Regions from separate parts of the Homo sapiens genome. Here regions 2, 3 and 4 are each reported to be linked to region 1. Evidence: microRNA targets listed by miRTarBase, many of them from high-throughput screens and not tested one by one. Region 1 holds a microRNA gene; each other region holds the end of a gene's coding sequence.
What was found. The annotated mature microRNA hsa-miR-6857-3p reads UGACUGAGCUUCUCCCCACAG and lies in region 1 at 2,949-2,969, opposite strand. An mRNA with a match to its seed (bases 2 to 7 or 8) in the 3' UTR can be bound and repressed. Matches are read on the target gene's strand: a 7mer-m8 pairs with bases 2 to 8, a 7mer-A1 pairs with bases 2 to 7 and ends in A, and an 8mer does both.

Region 2: the mRNA of ANTXR2 is a reported target of hsa-miR-6857-3p. Seed matches in the 3' UTR shown: 7mer-m8 at 4,255-4,261 and 7mer-A1 at 1,716-1,722.
Region 3: the mRNA of ATP8B4 is a reported target of hsa-miR-6857-3p. Seed matches in the 3' UTR shown: 7mer-m8 at 1,588-1,594.
Region 4: the mRNA of KLHL38 is a reported target of hsa-miR-6857-3p. Seed matches in the 3' UTR shown: 7mer-m8 at 1,616-1,622.

What each region holds. Positions count from the first base shown.
Region 1 is chrX:53,402,725-53,407,876 of GRCh38, forward strand. It overlaps MIR6857 (microRNA 6857), which reads right to left and starts at 3,041; the gene lies at 2,949-3,041. SMC1A (structural maintenance of chromosomes 1A) reads right to left here. Exons shown (of 25, transcript NM_006306.4): 10 at 3,047-3,232; 11 at 2,769-2,948; 12 at 2,521-2,667; 13 at 2,288-2,425; 14 at 1,053-1,169; 15 at 842-948.
Region 2 is chr4:79,903,049-79,908,200 of GRCh38, forward strand. It overlaps ANTXR2 (ANTXR cell adhesion molecule 2), which reads right to left. Exons shown (of 17, transcript NM_058172.6): 17 at 1-4,419. The coding sequence ends at 4,381. Among named protein-coding and RNA genes, the nearest start is that of PCAT4, 78 kb to the left of the region's middle.
Region 3 is chr15:49,855,947-49,861,098 of GRCh38, reverse strand. ATP8B4 (ATPase phospholipid transporting 8B4 (putative)) reads left to right here. Exons shown (of 28, transcript NM_024837.4): 28 at 624-2,861. The coding sequence ends at 905. Among named protein-coding and RNA genes, the nearest start is that of DTWD1, 240 kb to the right of the region's middle.
Region 4 is chr8:123,641,502-123,646,653 of GRCh38, reverse strand. KLHL38 (kelch like family member 38) reads left to right here. Exons shown (of 4, transcript NM_001081675.3): 4 at 626-2,212. The coding sequence ends at 915. Among named protein-coding and RNA genes, the nearest start is that of KLHL38, 9.7 kb to the left of the region's middle.

The sequences.
Region 1 (5,152 bases):
GTGGCGTGCACTTATAGTCCCAGCTACTCAGGAGGCTAAGGCAGGAGAATTGCATGAACACGGGAGCCCGGAAGGTGGAGAATGCAGTGAGCCGAGATCATGCCACTGCACTCCAGCCTGGGCGACAGAGCAAGACTCTGTCTCAAAAAAAAAAAAAAAAAGGGCCGGCAATATGGCTCACACCTATAATCCTAGCACTTTGGGAGGCTGAGGCAGGAGGATCACTTGAGCCCAGGAGATCAAGACGAGCCTGGGCAATGTGGCAAAACCCCATCTCTACAATAACAACAACAACAAAAAACAAAAAAAGAAAAATTAGCCGGGCGTGGTGGCAAACATCTGTAGTCCTAGCTACTCAGGAGGCTGAGGTGGGAGGACCACCTGAGCCTGGGAAGGTCAAGATTGACACTGCACTCCAGTCTCGGAAACAGAGTGAGATCCTGTGTCAAAAAAAAAAAAAAAAAAAAAAAAAGGTAAAACAGGTAATCTTAAAAAAAAAAAATTATTTCACCTAATCCTCCCAACAATGCCATGAGATAGGTATCATTATACCATTTTGCAGATATTGCAGCTTACAGAAGTCAAGTCACTGCCAAAGATAACGAGTTGTGGAGCTGGGGTTGTAATCCAGGAATCCAGAAAATCAAGTTTAGAGTTGGCACTCTTAACCACTATAACTATGCCATACTGCCCTCCTGATTTCTGTTCTTTAAGGCCTAGCTACATAAACTCACATAGTTCTAAGAGCTGACCCTTGCCTATGACAGCATCTGGTTTTCCAAGGATGTCAAGCTAGAGGCTCAAGGGCATGCCAATCTCTTCTACCAATCCTCCCACCTACCGCTTCTTGGCGATTTCATTCTGCCGTTTCACCTTTTCTTCCTCAAACTCCCGGATGTTGCGCACACCAATCTCCCGACAAAACTCTTCAAACACCTCATCCTCTACCTGAGAAGAGAAGCCAGGGAGGGCATCGGCCCTTTTAGTCTGTCCTGCTTCCAGTCCCAGTCCTGCCCTGACACACACGCTGGCATGGCCCACACCCTACCAACCTGGTTCATCTTCTCCTTCAAGTCTTTCATTTCCCTCTCTCGGCTCTGAATGATCCTCTTGATATCATTAATGCGAGGCCCAAAGTTGGCTAGCTCACTCTCCAGCTTGGATTTTTCCTACAGGCAATGGGTTGAGAGGACAAAGCAGACCAGGCTCCTTGGAGAAAAAGCTACCTTGACTGCATTGGCCCCACAGTCAGGAAGGGCTAGCTCTCCACAACTGAGAGAACCTGGCTTAGCACTACTGCCCTAGTCAAGCCTCCATGATGTTGCACTGAAGCCATCACATGGCTTCTTCCCTGGCATCCAGTTCAGCCAGCTTCAATCCACAGGGCTGGGGACACAGTAAACATCATTAGGTATAGGTCCCAGTCTTTGATCTACAACCCCTGGGGGCAGAGTTGTTTCAGAATTCAGTTTAGATTTTTTGAGTTTAGAAAAAGATATATAAATACACACACTACATATAAAACCTCTAGGGCGGTCTGGGGAAGTAGTCAGTAAAAAAAACAAAACACATTAATATACCTAGAACAGTCCCCCCCCGCCCCGCCCACTACCACAAGCAGGGACTGAAATGCCCATAGCTCACTTTCAAAAATTCAAATTTGTTGAATGAATAAATTATGCTAACAATAGCACATAACATAAACTGAACACATGGTAGTCTTAAGCACTTTACATGTTAACTCATTCAATAATGACCCTATAAAGTAGGTATCATTTATTTATTTTGAGACAGAGTCTCGCTCTGTCACCCAGGCTGGAGTACAATGGCATGATCTCGGCTCACTGCAACCTCCACCTCCCGGGTTCAAGCAATTCTCCTGCCTCAGCCTCCCAAGTAGCTGGGATTACAGGCGCCTGCCACCACGCCCAGCTAATTTTTTGTATTTGTAGTAGAGACAGGTTTGGCCAGGCTGGTCTCCAACTCCTGACCTCAGGTGATCCACAGGTGATCCACCGTGCCCGGCCGAGTAGGTATCATCTTAACTCGCATTTCACAGATAAAGATGTGAAGGTTGACACTGAAAGGTGAAAATACTTGCCTAATGTCAAACTCAAGGCAGAGCCAAGCTCTGAACCCCTGGCTGTCTGACTCTATGCTATACCTGACTCCCTGCGGCAGGCTGGGAGGAGACGGGGAAGTGAAACAAGTTCCCCACCCCCAGAGAAACCTAGGCCAGGAATGTGTGGATGGCCTTTGGAGAACAGGGCTGAAGGCCAGGCCCCACCTGCAGATTCAGGGCTAGATGTCGTGTCTTGGTCTGTTCTAGGTCACTCTGGGAGTACTTGAGCCGCATCTGCAGTCCATGGGCCTGAGACTGCACCTGACGCAGCTCTGCCTCTTTCCGTTTTGCCTTCATCTGCTCCTGAAGGGAACAAGAAAGAAGGGCTAGGTGGTAAGGTGGTGGCTGACCTAGGCTTAGGACTCCCACTGCTAAAAACAGCACTGCCTGTGGCTTACTTTCAGCTCCTCTGTCAAGCGCTCCTTCTTCTCTTTCAACTTGTCTACTGCTTTCTCATCCCAGCGCCGTGCCTTGGCCTTCAGGTCACTGGCCCCACCAGAGATCACTCCTGACTTCTGGAATAGGGTTCCATCCAGTGCCACTGTCTACACACAGCAGGGGGAAGAGAGAAGAGGGGGAGAAGCTGAACAAATGAATCTCCAGTACTGAGCCTGTCCAGCTCCAGCCTGGGCAAGGGAATCCACACCTTGTGGCGCTGGTGGCCTCCAAAGGCAATGCGGCGGGCATCTTCCACGTTGTCACAGACAAGGGCATTGCCACAAGCATACTGCAGGGCCTTTTTGATATGAGGTGGCTCATAGCGAATCACATCAATCACTAGCTTGGCCCCCTTCAGCTCCCGGAGTTTCTCATCTGTAGGCTTCACCTGTGGGGAGAAGCTCAGTCAGTGGCAGAACACAAACAGGGAGTACTAGAGGAGGGGCCCTTGAACACTGGCCTGACCCAATCCCCAACAAGCCTCACCTCCAGGTAGTCAAGAGGCAAGAAGGTCTCAGGCTCCCCACGCTGCTCCTTGATATACTGAATACAGTCCCGGCCTGTCTTCTCCGAGTCCACAATAATGGCATCCATGTTCTTGCCCAAAACCTTGGTTACAGCAATCTGATACTTCTTTTGTGTGGGCTGGCATAGGTCAATGAGGCGGCCGTACTGAGTAAAGTAGGAAGGGAAAACTGAAGTATGAAGCTTTTGGAAGCTGGCTCAGGAATCCTAATTCCCAGTATGGAAAGGGGGACAGACTAGAATCTATATCAGGAAGTGAATGCAACTGTATTGCCTAGTGGTTAAGATAACCCAATACCAAGCATGGTAGTGTGTGTTTGTAATCCTAGCTACTTGGGAGGTTGCAATGGGAGGACAGCTTAAGCCCAGGAGTTCAAGACCAGCCTGGGCAACATAATGAGACCCTGTCTCAAAACAAACAAAAAAGACAGCCCACTAGTTCTGTACCCATGCAACCCTACCCTATCTGAATGAGACTGTATGGACTGAGGAGGAGGCAATTGCAGACTAGCTTGCTGTGTGCACTCCAGATCAGCACAGTGGCCAATCCTAACGTCCCTTTGAAAGGTGGAAAAGTTTGGGTAAGAGAAGGGAGGTAAAGAAATGAATAAATGAGTTATGTAATGAGGGAAACTCAGTATTACATTAACACCTCAAAAGAGGTTCAGAGCAAGAGATGATATTGTCTCTTAGCACAATTATCCCAGATGCCTGAAAGTATGAAGCTATGTTTGCCGAGAACACTCCTGGTTTTGGAACCTAACAAGATTGAATAGAAGCCTGCAAACCTGAATGGCCTCACCCTAGGAGACATTTTTACATGACATGATCATGGACTAGACTAATTATTAATTAATGACTCAGTGGGATTCTAGTAATGTGCCAGTATCTTTCTACTCTTTTTTGGAGACGGAGTCTCACTCTGTTGCCCACGCTGAAGTGCAGTGGCGCAATCTTGGCTCACTGCAACCTCCACCTCCCAGGTTCAAGTGATTCTCCTGCCTTAGCCTCCCGAGTAGCTGGGATTACAGGTGCCCGCCACCATGCCCGGCTAATTTTTGTATTTTTAGTAGAGACGGGGTTTCACCATGTTGGCCAGGCTGATCTCAAACCCCTGACCTCCGATGATCTGCCCGCCTCGGCCTCCCAAAGTGCGAGGATTACAGGCGTGAGCTACCGCTCCCAGCATCTTTCTATTTATTACATGATTGTTCTGATGTAAGGGATCTGTGTTTGAAGATCAAAGTGGACTGTGGTTTTATGAAATATATATTTAGTCTTCTACCCGTGAGTTCCTGACACACAACTCCTAAAACCCTTAGAATCTCAGGAATGAGCAGTGTCTTTTGTATGTTAATGAGATGATTATGGCTGGAGGCCCATAGATAGCTTCTGGATAGGGGCTGGTTACCAGAAAGACCAAGGCAGGATTAGATTTGGGACTCTTAGCTCCACCCCTACAACCTTCAGGAGGGGAGAGGGGCTGAAGGTTGAACTGATCACCGATGGCTGATGATCTGATCAATCATGACTACATAATGAAGCCCCTGTGTGGGGGTACCTGGAGGGTGGCTTGCCCAGATTGGGCATGGAAGCTTCACATCTCTTCTCCCATACCTTGCCTTATGCATCCATCTGGCTGTTCTCTGTATCCTTTGTAATATCCTTCATAATAAATGGGTAAACATAAGTAAAACATTTTCCTGAGTTCTGTGAGCTGCACTAGTAAATTAATCGAACCCAGGGAGGGATTCTCGGGAACTGTAATTTATAGCAGGTCAGTCAGAACCACAAGTCACAACCTGAGACTTGCAATTGGCACCTGAAGTCTTGGACTGAGCCCCTAACCCACAGGATCTGATGCTATCTCCAGATAAATAGTGTCAGAGCTGAAGTGAATTATAGGTCACCCAGCTGGTGTCTGCTGGAGAATTGCTTGGTGTGTGAGGAAAAACCCCCACACTTCTGGTGTCAGAAGTGAAGTGTTGTGCTGGTTGTGAGAGTAGAAAAAACACTTTGGTTTTTTCCTATCTCACAGAAGAACACAGCCCCCATGCTATCAAGGAA
Region 2 (5,152 bases), not on the chromosome of region 1:
TGAGGGATGAGAATCACTTGAACCCAGGAAGAGGAGGTTACAGTCAGCCCAGACCATGCCATTGAACTCCAGCCTGGGTGACAGAGTGAGACTCTGTTTCAAAAAAAAGAAAAAAAATCTAGTCAGTGCTAAAAGGAACTTTTGATATCTTCATTCCATCTTCAGTCTATGGTTGAGAGTTGATCTGTTCAACATCAGCAAGCTAGTTGATGGCTGGGTCTATGGTCTAGGACCTCTCTGTTACCTGATTCCTAAGCTAAGACTCTTCATAGAAAACACATTGAGTCAATTCTCCCTCTGTTTCTCTCTCTCTCTCTCTCTCTCACACACACACACACAATTTACCTTAATATAGTTATTGTAGAGCAATCTAAACAAGCATATTTTTATACAAATTTACATGTTGTACTGTGTACTTACTTATCAGCCTTTTCTTTTGGCAGGAGAGCACAAAAATAAAATACATTAAAAAACCAGCGCAGAACCTGCTACATTATGGATTTTCAAAAACAACAACAAAAAAGTCTTTCTTTTATCCGATCGACTGAATTAGATTCCAGTAGGTGTGGAAATATATTAAAGTGTTCTCAGAAATATGTCATAGAAATTCACTAAGCACAATATTAATCTAACTCTAAACTAGAATATGCGTCTGCACTGACTTTATTTCCTACAAATAGACAACATTCTCCAGCCTCACCTGCCTGTTTCTTTCCTTAACTATGTAACAGATGTACCAAGAGTTATTCTATGTTTCTAGATTATGTATTTCCTTTCATATTGAAATGATGCATATATTTCTTTCCTGTGTACATATACCCACCAAACTTTTCCAGTAGTAATGAAACTCTCAAAAACTTTCTAAAGTAATGTGATGCTAGAAAATGCTAGTAAAAGCTAACCAATATACAATATATGCATGGAGTAGGAAGTTATAATTCCTTCTACTTGTAAATGTGACCTAATTACATTCTGCCTTCTTAAATTTCAAAAATAACATATATAAGCTGGTCTATCAAAATGTTTTAAACACCTAATTATCCACAATATAGAATTTGTTTCAACTTTAAACTAAACAAATGTATCTGCCTCTGAGCAGTAAACAATGGTTAGTGATATTTAGATAATAAAGTTAACTTCACAGAAACACCCAAATCTTGTATCTAGTAAGGATTTATTATAACAAATATTGAATAATTTATTATTTAAATGGTTAGAATAAAGTTCAAGGGAAATATAAGCAAACTACTTCTTTCTCTAACAATCTGAAATACATGGGGGTTTAAACCTTCTATATTTTTGTCAAAATAGTAATTAACCATAGATGACAGATGCTGCTCCCTAGTCAATGGAGGGTCTCAAATTTTACTCTGCATCTCATTGGGAAGGAAATATAAATTTTTAAAATAGAATTAACTTAGGGAAAGGCATCAGTGCTGCAACTCTTAGCACCAAATGTTTTTTCTTGGAGCACCAAATGCTCTAAGGAAAACATTCCAAGTATCAAAGTTTTCAGATAGATAAATATTTATGGATCAAATCCATAAAGAACAGACATTGTTATGAAATATATATAGATGCCTTCAAAACTTTCTTTCTAGGCAGAGTAGACACATAAGTTAGGAGTCATTTCCCACTTAATTGTTTTTGCAACCTTATGCAACACGAATGGATTATGTGCAAGACTTATTCATTTTTACACAGAAAGTAGATCTTGACTGACATGGTGTCCAGAAAATCAAACAGAAGCTATTTCTCTATATAAAATATAAAGTGCCATTAAATTTATAGAAATGGCTTCATTTTAATCTTTTTTTGGTGGAAAAGTATAGGGATTTTTGATCTGGTCTTTTGGTAAGAAAATAACACTCTTCAAAACAAATTCTTTTCAACTGCTAGTTAGTATAATTGGAGAAAAGCATAAAACAGATCTGGTTCATATCTTTAAGGGCAATGAAATTCCATCAGTCTTTGAACTTTATTAATGATATTTTTTCAGTCTACATATAGACCACTGCCACTTCCTCTTCATTAAGAGCTCTTCATAGTAGCTGTATAACAATCTACAGAAAGTTATTTTTCCATTTAAAGGCAGAGGTTAATTTTCATTGTTCATGCAGCAAAATGTAAGTATGCTACATAATTCTAGAGAAATTTGAAGTAGTTACCAAAGAAACATAGCCTTAGCTTCTGTAGTATTCTCAATGATATTAAAATAGCAATAATTGGTGTGCACTCATCAGAAATGAAGTGCCCATTTAAGGAAGCCACATTAGGTCTTGTTCCAGATGCAAATGCAGAACAAAGGGATACAATAACTCATTGCAGAAAGGGTTGGGTATACTATATCAGGCTTCCAAGTTACACTTGCATATGCAGCTACTGCCAATAGTATCATCTGTGAACATGAGGGACATTTTGGAACTGAATAGAATTCCATCCCTGAAACTAAGCATAACAACTGCATATTCAACCCAAGAAGGCATTAGCTTTATGTGGGCTTAAAGAAATGGTAGCACAGGCATAGGTAAAATTTTTATTTATGAATGTGTGGACACATGACTTTGGATCCAGCCAGCCAGTGACATAAATAAACTTGAGCAAAAGTTTCAAGCTAGAGGATATATATGTATAGAAAATTATATATTTGTGTGTGTGTGTAAGGCCTCTTGGAACAGTGCCACAAACCTGGACACCAACCAACAGAATACTCCCGTCCTTTGAAATTTCCATTAAGAGCACAATGGGGGTAATTATACCAGGATGCTCCAATCGCTCTTTCCATCTTGTGCACTCACATGCCCGCCAAACATGAAATGTTCGCCTTCTCCCTTCCAATGTGATGGTTGTTGAACTTATTTTTAGTGTCATTTGATAAGCCTTTGTGCTCACAGAGAGACATCCCACTGACCCAGCCACTGGTCATTGTCTATACCAGTTCACATCAAAGCAGGCGCACTTTGTCAGGTTTCCACTCGAATATCCATTTCGCATCTGAAGTACAGTATCGAAAGTGACTAGATCATTTGAGCTTTTTTCTTCAGCTGCTGCCTTCCTCCCCCACGGTGTTTCTGCTCACGCTAACATAATTTGGCATCGTCGACGTGACACGATGGTGGTTTTTCTAAAAAATTATAATACATACATCGTCAATGTTTTGTGATAGCGACCCTCCAGAAGATTTAATTTGTAAATTGAAGAAAGGTGGTCTTTTTCCTCTACTGAATCATAACCAAGGTAGAGTGCCCCTCAAAATCCAAGTAATGCGCATACAGTAATAGGTCATTCAATGTCAAAAGGCATAAAAAAGATGAGCAAAATCTTCACAGGCTGCTGCTTGCTGTTGCTTTTAATTATATTAATTAAACTTTGAAATTTTAATGCAAAGAGAGTTGCTGGCTTGTGACGCTGAAGAGCCCTTGGAGACTTGAAGAAAGAAAAAACCCTGAGCGGAAGCTTTGTGGTTACTGCTTCCTTTAAATTAAAAGCAAAACAAACTTCTAGGTATGTTTATGGATATTAATGCTTTATGCACTACTAAATCCTAAACACAGGAAAAGGGGGAATCTACTAGTCACAGGGACAAGTTCGCAAAAAATGAGTCCCTTGCACTACACTCAAGATCTCTGGCTAGAGGCCTTCTGTGGAATAACGCTCTATTAATTTTCTTGTCCCGAGTGCATAATGAAAGAAAGGTGTCTTCGAAAACTAAAGGGCAAAATCTTGCTTGCTACCAATACCTTGAGGCATCTTGTCTACATTTTGTCATGCGTGTGCACTTTTCAGTGTTAGAATGACAAGATTTTCCAGTCAGAAACTTCCCATAAGGCACACTGTGATAGAGCACTTGGAAGGATTCTGTGATCTGACATAGCTATAAGGCAATGGACTTCTTTATTTGCTTAGCCTGGTGGGAAATTTCATACTCTGCCTATGGATAAAGATCTTGCCACATAAAAACACAAGTGCCATGTTTCCATGTAAAAAACTCCTGTCTCCCATCATGGCTAGTTGTTTTGTGGTCCTTGTTTTGGTATCATCTTCGTGTTGTTGCTGTTGTTGCTTTTTCCTCTTCTACACATTCAAACAAACTTTCTTGTACAAACCATAGTCTGCAGGTCAATGTTCCTCTTTATTTTCAATGTCATAAATCATGAGTTACCACTGAGTTTCATCACCTCCCATGTAGATGGCAGAACAAGTGTTTAGAAATGTTTGGTGCAAGCAAAGCAGAAGGCAGAGAAAACATTTCCCGACTGAGAGGAATTAAGCTGCTCTTCCAAAAGCTTCTGAAATGCACTTGATTTTTTTCATTTGGTTGAAAATCAGCTATGTGAAAATGTGCCATCTTCGTACCTTCTTGGTCTTCCTGCTTCCCTTTTACTGAGATGGAACTCGGGAGAAGTTTATGCACCGGCCCTGAAGAAAGAAATAAATCCATATTGAAATATTGAAGCCATTATTTAAAAAAGCATGAGAACATCTAGTTTTCCTACCATGATAATAAATGATTACCCAAGGAAAGTACCATGTTAACTTGAGACATGAAGTCATAATTTTTTTTTCTTGGGTTAAAGCATGATGGTTCATTCAGATCTTTTCCACAGTAAGTTCACCTATGAGATGGTATGGTATAATTAATATGGAAAAACAATTATGGAAATAGAATGTTACTATTATCTAAAATACAGCATTACTATCACGGCCATAAAAATATCAAAGCCACAACCCAATATACTTCTTTATGTAATGAATTAAAATGAAAATATTTTCTTATGCAAGCTGATGCTCCTAAAATGCATACATGAGGATCACATTTAGTAAGCAGTAAGAGACTGAGGATGAGGAATCCCAAAAAAGGTATTGTCATCTCTTTGTAATTCCCTTTTATGAAGGATTTTTGCAAAATCATGTCCATTGTTACTGACCATTTCTCACCACTGCACACCACCATGATGTGTTCATTTCAAATGGTGACTATCTGCACTTACACATTTCTAAAGAGGATTTGCCATTCTAATTTCTTAACACTTCTGTGAAGGTTGTGTGGACACACTGTTCCATGTGTATTGTAAATAATCCAAGAAATATTTGAAAACAAAGTTTCCAATTAGTGATAAAAGATACTTTCCTTTTCTCTCTTTGGTATGAT
Region 3 (5,152 bases), not on the chromosome of region 1:
TTTACAGGGAAATGAAAGAGTACAGCAAACCTCAGGTCTTTTTCTCCTTAGCTTTACAGGGGAATGAAAGAGTTGTGGGAAACCTACTCACATAATAGGGAACATTTAGAAAGGCCATACAAACCTAAGAAATCAAAACCCTGGAAGTCTCATGATACGTTGAGCTACCACAAGAATTGAATATTTCTGACTCATTTTCTGAATTTTCTTCTAGTCCAGTTACTGACAACTGTTGGATCCAGAGAATCTCTAAAAGAGAGGAAAAAGGCTGTTTTGGGAGAATGAAATTATAAATTATTATGCTGACTTTGGGCGGTGCATGTTAGAAAATCTTTCTATACAAATGTATGCTCATATGCATTGAAGATACATGAGAGACAATAATGAAATTTGTCTGATATTTCTTAATTACTTAATAGTGTCTCGATAGAGATAAAAATGGACCAGTGCCCCCCCAGTGTTATCTTTTGGGTGGAAAATTTCTTAGTTTTTAGATTTAAAACTTCCTTTTGCAATGTTGTTTTTACTTATAAAAAAAAAAGGCTTTCACTTTACAAAGTGGGCCACTGCCTGGAGTCTATCATTTGGATGCATCATCTCACTTTGGGTCTGTTTCTCTCCAGATCCGCCGGTGGCAGAAGGCTCAAAAGAAGGCAAGGCCTCCAAGTAGCCGAAGGCCTCGGACCCGCAGGTCAAGCTCAAGAAGGTCTGGATATGCTTTTGCTCACCAAGAAGGCTATGGAGAGCTTATCACATCTGGAAAAAATATGCGAGCTAAAAATCCACCCCCAACATCAGGGCTGGAAAAGACACATTATAATAGCACTAGCTGGATTGAAAATTTATGTAAGAAAACCACAGACACCGTGAGCAGCTTTAGCCAGGATAAAACAGTGAAACTGTGAGTCAATATGAATTTAAACCACGTAGTTATCTTTTCACTTCAGGTGGAGCTGAAATTCTGCTGGCTCCAGAGTTTGAGATTTGAGGCAAGAGGTGGGGCAGGCAGATTGCCTCACTTAACTTAAATCTGCGGCAGACAACTGCCAGTGCCCATCAAACAGGAGTGTGCGCTATGGAAAACCAGGCCAGAGGGTCACTGTCTGGTTTGTGATTTGGTGGACAAAACACTCGCTGTTACAAGTACAGATTTTTTTTTTTTTTAAATCAACCTAGATACCAATTGACCTGAACTTTAGAATCTTATTTATGGAGAAAAACTTGTAAAGCTGCATATTCACTGAATGGATCCTCAGGCGGATAAAAGGGTGCATTTTAAAGGTATATATCCAAGCTGAAAAGCATGCCTATTGACAGATAAACATGTATCTGTAAGATCAGCCTTTCCCAAGGTATACTTTTAAAATTTAAAGCGTGTACTGTGTTGCTTTCAGACTGAGTTGCATGTCACTCTTTAGTCTTGATATCTACCTGTCTGTTCAGCCAGGACAACAAATGGCTTCCAAGCCTGAAGAATACAAAAGTGTGCTTGTGTTTCTCATTTTTATACCAGTCTAGGGACAAAGGAGACTGAACATCTTTGCAGCAGGATAGGCTGGTAATTTGATCAAATTTATTCAAAAAGCTCTCAGTCTGTGTCATGTAAGGACATGCTTATGAAATGTGAGAGAGGCTCGCCACTAAGTATTCTAAATACTTTTCAATGGCTTTTCTAACAACCTCAGTAGTAATTTGCTGAGCATCATCCAGACCATTAATAGAATCAGCAAAGCACTGGAATTTCACACTTTAATGATAATATTCCACATAGTCTATGGGCAAATATTTTCAACATTTCCAATTTTTAAAGCTTCAGAATTGAAGCCAAACAAATTAATAAATAATTGTTTTAATTACTATTTAAAAACTCAGGTTTAGATTGTTTAAAATTAGTTGCTTTTGATACTCAGCTGTCATGTTTATAATTCAAACATGTAGTAAACATATGTAGGTAAGGTTGTTTTTTTGGAGATGTTGCAGCTCAAATTTCAGTCCACATATGAATCATCAGTGTATTTTCCATAAAGTGATTCGGGCATATTTGTGTGAAAACCTCAGTTCTGTCACTTCTTACCTCTATAAACTTGGACGATAATGTGCCTTCTCTGAGACTCAGTTTCTTCCTCTGTAAAATGAGGACATACTACCTACCTCATGTGGTTGGTTGATGATTGTCTGTCAAAGCACAAACTCTGAAATTATTAAAAACATAATTATTTCATAAACAGATGAGTTAAGTTCCAGTTAACTCAACATCAGTATAACAGAGCAATTGGAAGAGAATATGAAAAAACTGGAATCTAAATAGTCAGTGAGGAAGGCTTTGATAAAATGAAATTGCCAGAAAGATATAAAACTGGTTAGGGTCCTACAGGGAAATAAAATTATAACCGTGGAGGTACATTTCTCTACCAGAAAGCAAAAATAAAGCATCATGTCTTAATGGTTTTCTACAAATCAACTTCTAATTCTACAGAGTCCTTAATCTGGTCCCTATTAAATTCTTGGTCAGACAAAGTTACATTTCCCAAGAGAGTCAGGTGACACTTGAGTGAGTTTGATGGATAATGAGCTAATGTGATATCTATAGGTCACAATTTTTTAAAACCAAAATTTTCAAGTCTGGGATAATCTTTCCTAAATGGGATCAAATGAAATAATATGTGTAAAAGAGTCAAATGCAGTCCTTTACCATAGTAACTGCCTATGGACGTTGTCTTTCCCTTACATGCCTGCCTACACTTAACCAGATGTTGGTTTTCAATGTCTAATTTGTCATTAGTTTCACCACATTTGCTCACTTTTTGTAACATTTTTGCAAGATTTGAAAACTTTCAGTAAATGTTTTGGCACTATTGGTACTTGATGTTTTATCTCTTCTTTATGGGAAATTCATTGGGGAGATTTTTGTTACATTAGTCCACGGGTATTTTTTTCTCTCCTTTACATGCTGGGGAAAATGTACTCATTCTTAGAATCAGAGTCAAGAATAAAATGAAACAATTGGACCTATGTGTAAGGGATAGGAAAGATTAGAAGTGGTCCAATTTTGCAAGTCCAGTTTAAATTAAATAAGGCTGTTTATAAACAAATAGTGTGGATGATTGTGAGAGAAACATATTATCAGCTTACTTTGGCCCCATGAGATCCAAGTAAACTCACACACCCATTGCGAGATCATTCAATTACAAGCGCCAGGGATTATTTTGAACCTGAAGATGAAAAGTGATGAGAGGTGGGTAGTGATGGTGGGGGCACTGGGGAATAATAACATTTTAATTTTACATAAATGTTATCAAATTATTTGGAAAGAAAAACTATTTTTTCTAGATTTAAGCTGATAATCTTGTGTTTTTAAAATCTCAGCCCAAGTTTTGAGCTATTATAGGTAATTGCAAATTGTGTTTCCCTGACTTAGCTCTGCTATCTTTGGCTCTCTCCTCTGCCTCCAGATGTATATACTTATGAAGGAAAGAAAGAGAGAGAGGAAGGAAGAAAGTAAGACAGATAAAGCAAGAGAGGAAAAAGTAATGGAGGAAAGGATGGTGGGAGGGAGAAAAGAGTTTTCCAGTTATATGTTTTTTTGAGATAATCTGACTCTCTGAAAAATAAATGTAATCCCTCAAAGAAAAAAAAAGTGGATTATATTTGACTCTTGAATAGTAAAATTTCCTTCACATCTTGTGTGAGAACAAGAAAATCTTACCAGAATGGGGGCCGGGAGCCCTGGCTTCCTGTCACAGTGATGGTGCTGATCTGTGTGAGCTGGGGCATGCCACCTGACTTCTCCAGGCCTTGGTGTCCTTGTCCATTGATAGAGAAATTGGGACAGGATGGTCTTAAAGCCCTTTTCTCATTTACCCAATCTGTGAGCTGTTCTTGTCAGTGTTGTCTGTTGTGTATTTGCAATTGCCTTTGTTAGAGAGACAGATTTTCTATATATATATATATATAGAGAGAGAGAGAGAGAGAGAGAGAAGAAACTGACTTGGATGTTCTCTTGAGGGCAGGGCCTGGCTCTTCAGGCTGTTGTACTGGTTTGTATTTCTCTAGACTAGCCCCTGATGCACTGCTGTCTCTGGCTTTTCTCTCAGCTCACCACAGAGCTGCTAAACCCTGTGGTGGCATTTTACCTGGGTCAGTTGAATGCTGTTTCTTGTTAATGATTCATGAAGGTATCTCCACACCCTCCTTTCCTCTCTCATCATTTTGAGTAACAAAAGTATCCAGATGTGAAGGTAAGATACTCATGTCCTGTTAAGAAGAGCTCATTTAAAAGTCCTCCCTACCTTGAATCTGGGCTTAGAGGAGATTCTTTGAGCCTTTGTTCCCTTGGGACCGAAGTTGAAGCAACAGAGCTTGAACAATTTTCTTCATAGTTATAGAGCACTTTGCAGTTTGTGTATCATTCTTACATAAACTGTATTGTGTCTGTGTAGATGTAAAGTGTGCAGATTTAGGGAAAAGTGTAAATAAATGTAAAAATGTTCAGAAATATATGTTTCAAATGTTCTTTTACCTTTCAGTGCAAATAAGAAAAATCTCCCTTCCTTCCTTCCTTTCCTACAGCATTTAGTGACGTCAGGTAGGTGTGGAAGGCAAAGGAAATAAAAATGTCTCAAACTATTTCTAAAAAGTCACTAGGAAATCCAACTAATGAGAAAAGCTCTACTTCTGATTTTTATGGTAAGAAATTGAATTACTCTGTTAGTGTGTGCACAAAATGCCTCAAGATTGATATAATCTAATTATCTCAGTTATATGACTCAGAATTATTATTTTACACTACAAAGAGTAGGCACAAAGTTAATAGTGTAGGAATCCAGGAATAATGATGACTTACAGACTTTGTGATGGAATTCTGCAGGCCATGGGTCAGATAACCGTGTGGGGGGGGGGGGTCACAATTTTCCAATTTTTACATTAACATCTGGTATTAAATGTCTGCAGTTTGCTCTACTGCGTCACATTTCATTCCTTGGTGAGAAATCATAAGCTTTTGCAATTCTCTAGCCTAAGCCTTTAGCTGAACTGCCTGGAAGCCAGAACTAAATGACCCACGTATTACCAAATGTGTATTGCAAAAGATTTGGAGGACCTTGCTGGGCTAATCTGTAGTTTGGGGCTATGACTTAACCCTATCTGTCCTTGA
Region 4 (5,152 bases), not on the chromosome of region 1:
AGCACTTAGCACTATCCCAGATACACGGTAAATAAAACATGTTTGCTTCTGCTTATAATATTAGCTACTAATAGTTTGTTTCTCTGTAATCAAATCATAGTGTCATGGTTAAGAGGACTGGTATTGGGGTCAGATGGAACTGGGCTCAAATCCTGGCTCTGTCACTAACTGGCTATATACTTTTTAGCAAGTTAAACATCTTTCTGTGCCTCAGTTTGTCCATCCATAAAACGAGGATCCTAAAAGTAACTACCAGATAGGACTGGTGTGGGGAACCCACTTCTGAGTTTCCAAAGGATTGTCATAGTTCTTGAGTGGGCATTTGAGAGAGGAAGAGGCCAATGAGGCTGAGAAAGTTACAGGAATCAGGAGGCCGCTCCCAATCTAAGAATGGCTTATATGCTGCCTTAACTTGGGGTGAAGGTCAGAGTCAGGCAGATTTGCGTGCCAGCCCCCACTCTGCCACAAAGCAGGCCTTGGCAGGTTAGCTCAACATCCCACGTGCTAGTTCAGAGCCCCAGCCTCAGCCTTACGCAGTGGCAGGAGTCAGACGCGTCCCAGGACTGCTGACCTCCAGTCCCAGATGAGCAACACTGAGCTTGCCCATGTGTCATTTGGTTTTCAGGTTACACAAGGAGGATTCTTGCTTATGACCCTCAATCCAACAAATTTGTCAAATGTGCGGACATGAAAGACCGGAGGATGCACCATGGGGCCACAGTGATGGGAAACAAACTCTACGTGACGGGCGGGCGGCGGCTGACCACGGACTGCAACATTGAGGACTCCGCCTCCTTCGATTGCTACGACCCCGAGACGGACACCTGGACATCCCAGGGACAGCTGCCGCACAAGCTCTTTGACCATGCCTGCCTCACTCTCCAGTGCATACCCCGCACGTCTGGCCTCCCATGAGGTCGACAAGAAACCTTCTGCCCTAGTCAAAATGCCTTCTGTCGCCAGGGACACAAACCCAGCTCCAAAGGGCTTAACCCTTAAAGGCTGCAGGGAGAGCTCACAAGACTGAGGTACCAGAGTCGGGAGGCCTGGAACTAGGCATTGCATTGCCAGAACTCTCTCTCTCCTTCTCTGCCTCTCTCCTTATCTCTCTCCCCCACCTCCATCTGTCTCTGTCTTTCCCCCTTCTTTCTTTCTCTCCCCTATCTCTGTCTGTCTCTCTCTCTCTCTCTCTCTCTCTCTCTCTTTTTCTTTTTTTTGAGATGGAGTTTCACTCTGTAGCCCAGGCTGGAGTGCAGTGGTGCTATCTCAGCTCACTGAAACCCCCACCTCCCAGGTTCAAGCGATTCTCACGCCTCAGCCTCCTGAGTAGCTGGGATTATAGGCATGTGCCACCAAGTCCAGCTAATTTTTGCGTTTTAGTAAAGACAGGGTTTCACTATGTTGGCCAGGCTGGTCACGAACTCCTGGTCTCAAGTGATCCACCGGCCTCAGCCTCCCAAATGCTGAGATTACAGGCGTGAGCCACCACGCCTGGCCTGTCTCCTTTCTGTCTCAGTTTCTGTCTCTCTTCTCTCTCTCTGTCTGTCTCCCCCTCTCTGCTTCTCTCTCTTCTCTGTCTCTCTGCCTCTCTCTGCCCCTCTCTCTCTCTCTCTCTCTCAGTCTCCCCTCTGTCTTCCTCTCTCTCATCCCTAGGTTTTCCTCTCTCTCTAGCAATCTTCTTCATTTACCCACACAGTGTGTGGACAATGACAAATGATAAACCCAGACTCATTTTCCAGCTTTATATCTTCAGGAGAGAACTTTGCCATTATCCATATATTAAACCTAAAAAACAATGCTTATGGGCCTCTTTTGAATTCCATGTCTACCTCTTGAGCCAATCACTGTTGCCAGGACTGGCTAGTCCTGGACCACATCCCCACAGACAGAGGTGGGGTTACCTGTTGTCACTGACAGCCCATCCAAACTGCATATAATGGGTTAGAAGCATTTCCCCAAAGAGAGAAATCCAGACAAAAACCACATCTGCCCAGGACACCACTGAAATCTGGAACAAGAGGGCTGAGAGAACCCAGAGGATTCCTGGAACTGCTTGGTCCAGGTGGCAGCGTGAGAAATTGGCCCTGACCTTGTTTTTCTGCATTCTATGGATGTAGTACATTGAAATTCCAGAGATATATGCACAATTCAGTATCTAATGTTTGTAAAATTATCCTGCATTGCCAGAATAAAGTTTGTTTCTGGTGCCAAATGATGTTTTTCTGCAGCCTCTGGGGAGCTATAAACCTGCATAATTAATCAGGATGTTCATTTTGGTCAGTGTTATGAGGATTGCTCTTCTGGGGAAAGTCAACAAATTCCTTCAGTGCTTACAGCAGTCATTGCCCTCAGATGCCAGGGCTGACTATCTCTATAGCTCCCGTTATCTCAAGGTGCCTCCCACACTGGCTCAGTCCCAAACACAGGAATAAGCTGAAGTGGAGAACAGCAGTTCTCAGCGCTGCCTGCACAACACAGTCATCTGGGAAGATGTTTGAAAATGGGGCCAGCTCCATTGGAGAAAAATGAATAGGGATGCTTTGAGGCTGGGGGCAGAACACTGTATTTTTTGAAAAGCTTCCCAGATTTTTGAAATGTACAGTCAGGGTCGAGAACCACCGCTCTGGTCAGCTGTGAGCACGGAAGACCTGCATGGCTGGTTTCATTCCCCTCCTGTCATGGTCAGCCCGTCTGAGCCTAACAATGTAAGCTAAGTCCTCTCCCCACCAACGGAAGCATCTGCCATCAGTCTTGCTGCCCTGAGCCTGGCACCAGAGTTCACTCCAGCTGTAGCCTTCCTCCCCATCTGGCTCTCCAGGTTCATGTTCTAGACTTTTCCTTCTTTCTAAGTTGTCTTTTTTGTACTTCAGATTCTCCTCCTGGGGTCTGAAGCTCTGCTCTGCTCCCCAGATCTCTTGGCTGTGGTTCAGAGACCCTGCTTGGATTGCCAGCCCTGCTCCTCAGCCTGGACACTGTCCCCTTAGCTTCTGGCTGGCATCTTGTTCCAACCTAGTCTCTTTAAACCCCCTCTATTCAGGCTCTCAGTCCCACCTCTATTAATTCACAGGACAGTTGATTGTTTAAAAGGGCATAGAACACTTCCCCTCTCTTTTGCTCCCTCTCATGTGAAATGCTGGCTCTCTAATATGGTTTGGCTGTGTCCCTACCCAAATCTCATCTTGAATTGTAGCTCCCATAATATGAGAGGACCCTGGTGGGAGATAATTGAATCATGGGGGTGGTTTCCCCCATACTGTTCTCATGATAGTGAATACGTCTCACGAGAGCTGATGGTTTTATAAAGGGTTTCCCTTTTCATTTGGCTCTCATTCTCTCTTGTCTGCCACCATGTAAGACGTGGCTTTCACCTTCCACCCTGATTGTGAGGCCTCCCCAGCCACATGGAACTGTGAGTCCACTAAACGTTTTTTTCTTTATAAATTACCCAGTCTTAGGTATGTCTTTATCAGCAGCATGAAAACGGACTAATACACTCTCCTTCCCCCTCCACCATGAATGGAAGTAGCCCGAAGCCCTCACCAAAAGCAGATGCTGGTGCCATGTTTCTTGGACAGCCTGTATAACCATGAACCAAATAAACCTGTTTTCTTTATTAATTCCCCAGCCTCAGGTATTCCTTCATAGCAGCCGAAAATGGACTAACACATCCCCTCTTTCTTTTTCACACTTGCTGTGCCCTCCCCTTGAAAACATTTGCCCCACACATCATACCCACATGGTTCACTCCCTCAACGCCCCCAGGTCTCTGCTCAAAGATGCCTTCCTTCCCTGACCACCCACCCTTCACATAACCCATCAACAGGTCCTGTCTGCAACACCCCTGGGAAATAGATCACAAACACCTCCAGCTTCTCCATCTTCACTGGTGCTTCCCCAACTCAAGCCATCCTCATCTGATCAGCCTCCAAAATGTGCCCCCTGCTTCCACTGCTACCCCATGAGCCTTCCTTGAGCAACAGTCAGAGTGATCTTTTTTTTTTTTTTTTTTTGAGATGGAGTCTTGCTCTGTGGCCCAAGCTGGACTGCAGTGGTGCAGTCTCGGCTCATTGCAAGCTCCGCCTCCTGGGTTCATGCCATTCTCCTGCCTCAGCCTCCCAAGTAGCTGGTACTACAGGCGCCTGCCACCACGCCCGGCTAATTTTTTGTATTTTTAGTAGAGACGAGGTTTCACCGTGTTAGCCAGGATGGTCTCGATCTCCTGACCTCGTGATCCGCCCGCCTCGGCCTCCCAAAGTGCTGGGATTACAGGCGTGAGCCACCACGCCCCGCCAGAGTGATCTTTTTAAAACACAGACCTGATCATGTTACGCCCGTGCTTAAAATGATTCCATGGCTTCTCAGAGACCTTTGCATAAAGCCCCCAATCCTTTATGTAGCTTCTAGTTCATTCCCTAATCCAGCACCCACCTATCTCTCTGGCCTCATCTTTTGCCACCCTCACTCCTTGAAGTTGTCTCAGGCCCAGCCATCCTTCTTTACTTTACACCCTCCTCTCTTTCCTCAGGGCCTTGGCATGTGCAGTTGCCACTACCTGATACACACCTCTCTTACCTCTTCACCCTACATAATTTCGACTTACACCTTGCACACCAGATTAAGAGTCACAGCATCAGGGGTGTCTTCCATGCTTCCCCCACTCCAGTTTGGGTCAGCTTTCCTATTAAATACCCCTATCATTCCCCCTTTTGTTTTTCTTGTTGTTGTTGGGTTTTTTTTTGTTTTTGTTTCTTGTTTTTTGAGATGGGGTTTCACTCTTGTTGCTCAGGTTGGAGTGCAATGGTGCAATCTCGGCTCACTGCAACCTCCACCTCCTGGGTTCAAGCAATTCTCCTGCCTTAGCCTCCCAAGTAGCTGAGATTGCAAGCATGCGCCACCATGCCCGACTAATTTTGTATTTTTAGTAGAGACAGGGTTTCACCATGTTGGTCAGGCTGGTCTCAAACTCTTGATCTCAGGTGATCCACCTGCCTCGGCCTCCCAAAGTGCTTGGATTACAGGCATGAGCCATCGCGCCCGGCCCCCTATTCTTCTCCTTTGAGACTCTTATCCTATTCGTAATTATTTGATCTCTGTTTTCCCCTCTAGACTTCTTATTCTGTCCTGTTCATCTCCGCATTCCCAGGGCTGCCCT